Linked DNA regions of Homo sapiens: region 2 is linked to region 1. Evidence: fine-mapped expression QTL. A gene starts in region 1. The other region holds a variant in brackets. All regions are shown on one strand. Distances are from middle to middle.

What was found. PIP is the estimated chance that this variant, and not a neighbour inherited with it, causes the effect. A credible set is the group of variants that fine-mapping cannot tell apart.
Region 2: its variant is the best candidate, but not a certain one, in a credible set for the expression of ARHGEF12 in whole blood (TOPMed, PIP 0.56).

The regions. Positions count from the first base shown.
Region 1 is chr11:120,335,120-120,338,031 of GRCh38, reverse strand. It overlaps ARHGEF12 (Rho guanine nucleotide exchange factor 12), which reads right to left and starts at 1,619. Exons shown (of 41, transcript NM_015313.3): 1 at 757-1,619. The coding sequence starts at 788. RefSeq lists a silencer at 1,163-2,032.
Region 2 is chr11:120,444,394-120,447,305 of GRCh38, reverse strand. ARHGEF12 (Rho guanine nucleotide exchange factor 12) reads right to left here. Exons shown (of 41, transcript NM_015313.3): 16 at 1,842-1,884; 17 at 798-903; 18 at 221-358. Among named protein-coding and RNA genes, the nearest start is that of GRIK4, 66 kb to the left of the region's middle. The variant T/C (reference allele first, on the strand shown) is at 1,560.

The DNA of each region.
Region 1 (2,912 bases):
CACCATGCAACACTGGTAGGTGCTATAAAGGACAGACACAGAACTCAACAAATTCAGCTGCGCGCTTACACTATGCTTACGGCTTATATCTCTTAAACGCCAAGTGTTTCTGGAAGACGAAATATTTAAATACAAGAATTAAAAGCAAACCCCATGATTTACCCTCATTTCTTCAGCTCCTGGACATTGCTTCCAGCAAGAACCTGTGATTTACTGGTAATGTCAACATTCTGGAAAGTTATTAGATAATAATTAAACACCGTGCAGGTCAACATCTGAAAGAGATCAAGTTCCCAGATCACCATGCAGTAGGCTCAACATTAAGTTCACAGGTAGAAATTCCTAAAATGTAATTGTCTTGAGAATCTACTGCAGGACACGGCTAAAGCTGATAAATAATACACCAATACCGAGCCGACTTCAGGCACCGACCTTCACCTAAAATGACCTTCTCCTCTGATTTCCAGACGAGTACACAATCCTAATGCACACTACAGGCGGAAAACCACAATCATGGTTTTGCCTCCCCCTTCTCTGAGAATCGGAAGGGAAGTTTCTCTCCGGAAAAATTACATTTCCAAAAGCCAATCAACTGGATAACTCGGCAGCAACCCCAGGCTAACTGCACAGCTCCGAAACAACCCTCTTTCCTCTGCCTGTCAACTTCGCTGGCCAAAGGCAATCTGCAATCACCGACTCCCCTGCTAGGTCGGGCCCGATTCCGGGAGGCCGAACGAAGGAGGAATTCATACCAACCTGTCGGTGATAGTAGACTGTGTGCCACTCATTGGGGCCCTTGGCGAGAGGTCCTCCTTTTATCCAACTTGCATTTTACAGTAACACCTCCTCCCCACCCCCAGTGCTCTGGGATCAGGCCCAACTCCGTCAGGGACACAAAAGTCCAACTCAAAACTCCATTCAGTCATCTAGACCATCCGACTGTAAGGGGTCAACGGATGCGGCTTGGAGCAAAACAAGTTATCTCCCAAAACGAACTGAGAAAGCCAGGGAGCGAGTCAGTCCAGAGTGAGTCGAGCTAGAGAGAAATCCTCCAGAAGGCACAAGGATAAACTTCCTCAGAGAGGGAAATCCGCGCGCAGTGGGAAGGGGACCCGGGACTCCCGCCGGGGCTGGGGCGGGATCAGCTCACGGACGGGTGTCGGCTCCTCCTCCGGAGTCTCGGGGCCTCGAACTCCCCGCCGCGGCAAGGGCCGGGGCCCTCCCTCCCGGCTCTCTATCTGGGGCTGCCGGCTGCTCGTGGCCGCAGCGTTGGCCGCGTCTCCGGCCGTCCCGCGCCGGGCTCGCGCGATTCCATGTCCCGGGCCCGGGGCTCCTTCTGTGCTCGCCGCCCTCACCAGGCTCCCGGTGCTGGGACGAGCCGCTGGCGCCGGCGGAGAGGTCCCGCGGCCCGAGGTGACAGGGACCCGGGTCTCTCAGCGCCGCGGACTGCTCCCCATCCCTTTGAGGCCCGGACTCTTCCGCAATCGCCAGAGGCGGCGGCTCCTCCCCGACGCTCCCCGCGAGGGGCGGGAGATGCCCGTCCGGCCCGGCCTGGAAGCCCTGGTCCGGGAGGCGGAGGCGGCGGCGTCTCCCGGCGCAGGGCCGGCTCGCCGGGTTCTGGAGGCCCTCGCGGGCGCGCGCGCAGACAGCGGAGGAGGCCGGCGGCCGTGGGGGCCGCGCAACCGCGGGCGCGCGCGCGGGTTCCGGTTCCGGTTCTGGTTTCCCGGCCCTGGCCGCGTCCGGCGCGAGCTCGCGCTTCCCGTCCCCCGCCGACTTTATGGCCCCCTCCCCTCTGACTTCGGGAAGCCGCCTCACCCGGGATCCCTCCGCCGCTCAGGGCCGCGCTCTCGCCCTTGAACGGACGCCTCCGCCGGAGCCCGGTTTGGGAGAGCGGCAAAGTAGTCCTACGGGGCAGAGGGAGGTGGGACCCGTGCAGCCCCGGGAGGCCCACCCACCTCCCGCGGCGCCTGGGCCCCTGAGTGCCGAGACATGCCCCTTCGAGTCCAGTTTGTACTAAGTCGACTTTCACCAGAGACCGCCCGAGAGCGCCCCCCAGATCCCGAGGACATCGTGCCGGGAGGCTCTTTGAAAATTACCAGCCCCCCTTGTCCTGGAAACTTTTATTACTTAAGGGAATGTATTATCTCTCCTGTCTTCTGGCTGCACGCGTTCTGCCGGTTCCCGGCCGGCGCCCCTCGCTGCCTCCGCAGGCCCCGCTCACCTGGGCACCTGCCGGCTCCGGGGGGAGAGCGCTGCATGAGCCGGAGGCGCAGGGCTGCGGGAGAGCAGCTGGGGACTGCAGCCAGGGTTTCTCGGTATAAATATTACTTTTAGGCTGTTTCTGCCTTGGCAAAATGAAATGTGTTATTTGCCAAATTGATAAAGCATGGTGCTTTCCATGGCGACTTAACAAGCGTGTTGTGGAAAGAACTGGGAGAAGAAAATGAAGTATATTTATCCAGTAAATAGCATTACGGTTCTCTCTGAAGGATTCCCAAACGGTTTTTCGGTTTTTTCCCCTACTGGGTAGAGAGCTTTAGATACCCATCTAGTTTTATGATTGAATAATTCAGTATTTTGGCAATTTAGGTACCACATGTAATACAGTTCTTCAGTTCTGCCTGCAAACATCCAAAGTGGCTATTCCCTTTATCCAACTATTTTCAGACTTTTGAGCTTAAACCTATGTTGGTGACAAGGGATTTCAGCCATTTTGTGGAATCCAAGTAGCAAATCAAATCTAATAAACAGTGGATGTGGAGAGAGGAAACAATTACCTCTTAACAATGCTGTTGCAAAAAGTCATTCCGCAACAGTTCATGAAAGGATCATTATCCCCGAATAGAGGCATGAGCTCACGCTGACGTTAGTTAGAACGGGGGGGAAAAAAAGGAAAAGATAAACAGAGACCA
Region 2 (2,912 bases), 110 kb before region 1:
GAGTTACCCATTTACCACCACCCAGAAAAAGGAACACAAGAAATTTATCTAAAAGTATCAGAAAAAAGAAAAAAAAAATCCAGTTTCTCAAGTACTATGACAAAATAAACGGCTCCACATACACAATCTGACAGTTTTTCTAAACCTACCCAAAGGACACTTCAAGCATAACTAGTATCTCAGCAGAGAGGGCATTTCCACATATACTTCTATTACTTACAATACTTCTTCAATTTTGGCAACAATCTGTTCTGCACATGTCCGCTCCTTCTCCAAAGTCAATCGGTCCTTGTCTCGCTCTGCATCAAGTTTAGTCAGCTCGCTTTCAGCCAAGGTCAGTCCCATACTACGTTTCTGCCTGAAGGGAATAGAGAAGTTTCCTGAGGTAGCCTAAAGAAAAACTACCTCATTCTGGGGACGCTTCATCACAGTCTTCACAGCTATGGTTTCTAGGAACAGGAAAAATGTCACTTTTCCACTTATGGGTCCATGTCATCTAGGATACCAGAGGAAAAAATTCTAGAAGCAATGACTCCAAGAACACATACAATATCTTAAAGGAACACACTTAGCATAGACACAGCACTGAGCTCAGATCCTGCAAGTGCCTGGAATGGAGAGTCTGGACTCTCAGTTCCACTCTAACCCTTTGGCTCCAGATGTTCATTATGTTTTAATAACAATAAGACCATATGGTTTATCTAGTGCTAAGCTAAGTATTTAATGAGCAACTTTTTCTTAACTAAAAAAATTAATTTAGAATAATCATATGAAATTCTATCTACCACTAAGCTTACCGAAAATCTTCTAAGTGCCTTTGAACTTCTGGATGGACTCTTTCTTGCATAGTTTGGATATAGTGGCGATGCAGATCCTCAGGAATGAGCTCAGGTCTTCTCTTTTCTTCATAAATGAAAGGAATTATGTTATCTAAAGGTATGTTCTGGGCAACATACAATTGGCAACATAGCAATGCTACTTCGTACAAATTAACTTAGAATATGCCAGAGGGAAGTTCTTCAGGGCAGTTCGTATATTTCATCCCAGAATTCTGATTTCATTTACTCTATTATTATTATTATTATTATTATTATTATTATTATTATTTGAGATGGAGTCTTGCTCTGTTGCCCAGGCTGGAGTGCAGTGGCGCGATCTCAGCTCACTGCAAGCTCCACCTCCGGGGTTCATGCCATTCTCCTGCCTCAGCCTCCTGAGTAGCTGAGACAACAGGCGCCCGCCACCACGCCCAGCTACTTTTTTGTTTTTTAGTAGAGACAAGGTTTCACTGTGTTAGCCAGGATGGTCGATCTCCTGACCTCGTGATCCACCCGCCTCGGCCTCCCAAAGTGCTGGGAGTACTACAGGCGTGAGCCACTGCGCCCAGCCATATTATTATTTTTTTTGAGACAGAGTTTTGCTCTTATCACCCAGGCTGGAGTGTTAATGGCATAATCTCAGCTCACTGCAACCTCCGCCTCCTGTGTTCAAGCAATTCTCCTGCCTCAGCCTCCTAAGTAGCTGGGATTACAGGCATGCACCATCATGCCAGCTCATTT[T/C]TGTATTTTCAGTAGAAACAGGGTTCCACCATGTTGGCAAGGCTGGTCTCGAACTCTTGACCTCAGGTAATCCACCCACCTTGGCCTTCCAAAGTGCTGGGATTACAGGCGTGAGCCACTACGCCCGGCCTCATTTACTCTTTAAATGTATTATAGACTGTCTTTCTGTTGTGATTCAGGTGATCGACTAGTCACCATGTGACAGATAAAACCTGAACAGATGAGCTGAGCTACATATCTATTAAGATGTAATTCTCCAGGATGTTAGTGCTCCAAGCTTACCTAGATCTGCAGACATTTCATCAGGAACAGAAACTTTCAGGTGCTAAAATGAAATGCAAACAAAAGGTGTAACAACGCTAAAGATATTTGAAGATGTACATAAGTACTTCTGTAAAGTAAGGGGATACAACTTGGATACCCACTCTACAAGCACAATCAAGTACAAGCTCATTTATTCATTCACATTTCACAACTCCAGAACATTCTATCGTTTAAACTTGAAAATGAGCCCTTTTCCCGAGGATCATGCTATAAAGGAAAAGTCTACAGTCGTTTAGCTAGATGACTGAATGCTTCTGTGACACACTTAATGAATATACTGGCTTTGGCTTTGGCTTCCTAGAATCATTGGTCAATATAATCAGTTATATGTCATTTAGATCAATATAGGTAAAACCTAAATTATGTGTATATTATCATATGAAAAATGTACTCACATATAGCCATGATTTTTCTTTCCTATATTTGAGATGCTCATTCTGAAGACCAATAATATTCCTAATCGTTTTCCTATGTAAAGTTTAAGAGCCCTCACAATGTCACACTCCCAGTGAGAAAATATTGAATGTCAATGTTGAGTTTTTGGAGTTTTAAATCTCCAGCAACCATCTACAGTTCTTGCTACTGAACCAAATAAGGTGACTATCTTAGAATTTACTTATTCCTAGCTAGGATTTTCCCCATAATATTTGCATAATAATTACCAGTCTGTTGTTTTCCCCCACCCCCAAACTAATGGAGGGGAATACTTTATTATTTTGCATTAAGAGAAAATATCTTAACCTCTTCCTGCTTATTTTGTATTGTATACCTATTTAAGTCATACAATTTCAGAATTTAAACACATCCTATAAGATCTGAAGTTTTAAATTTGAAAATAAGTCACCGCTAAAAATTGTAAGATCTCTTTATATTCATTTGAAGAAAAGTAAAATGGATTTTAAAACTTTCTCTTTGACAGGCAGTAGCTCAAATCAACTTTCTTAAAAGCATTTCTAGCTCAAGTGCAAAAAAGTAATAAAAGCTCATTTCTGTATGATGGTGTATATATGAAATAAATGTGAGCTGTAG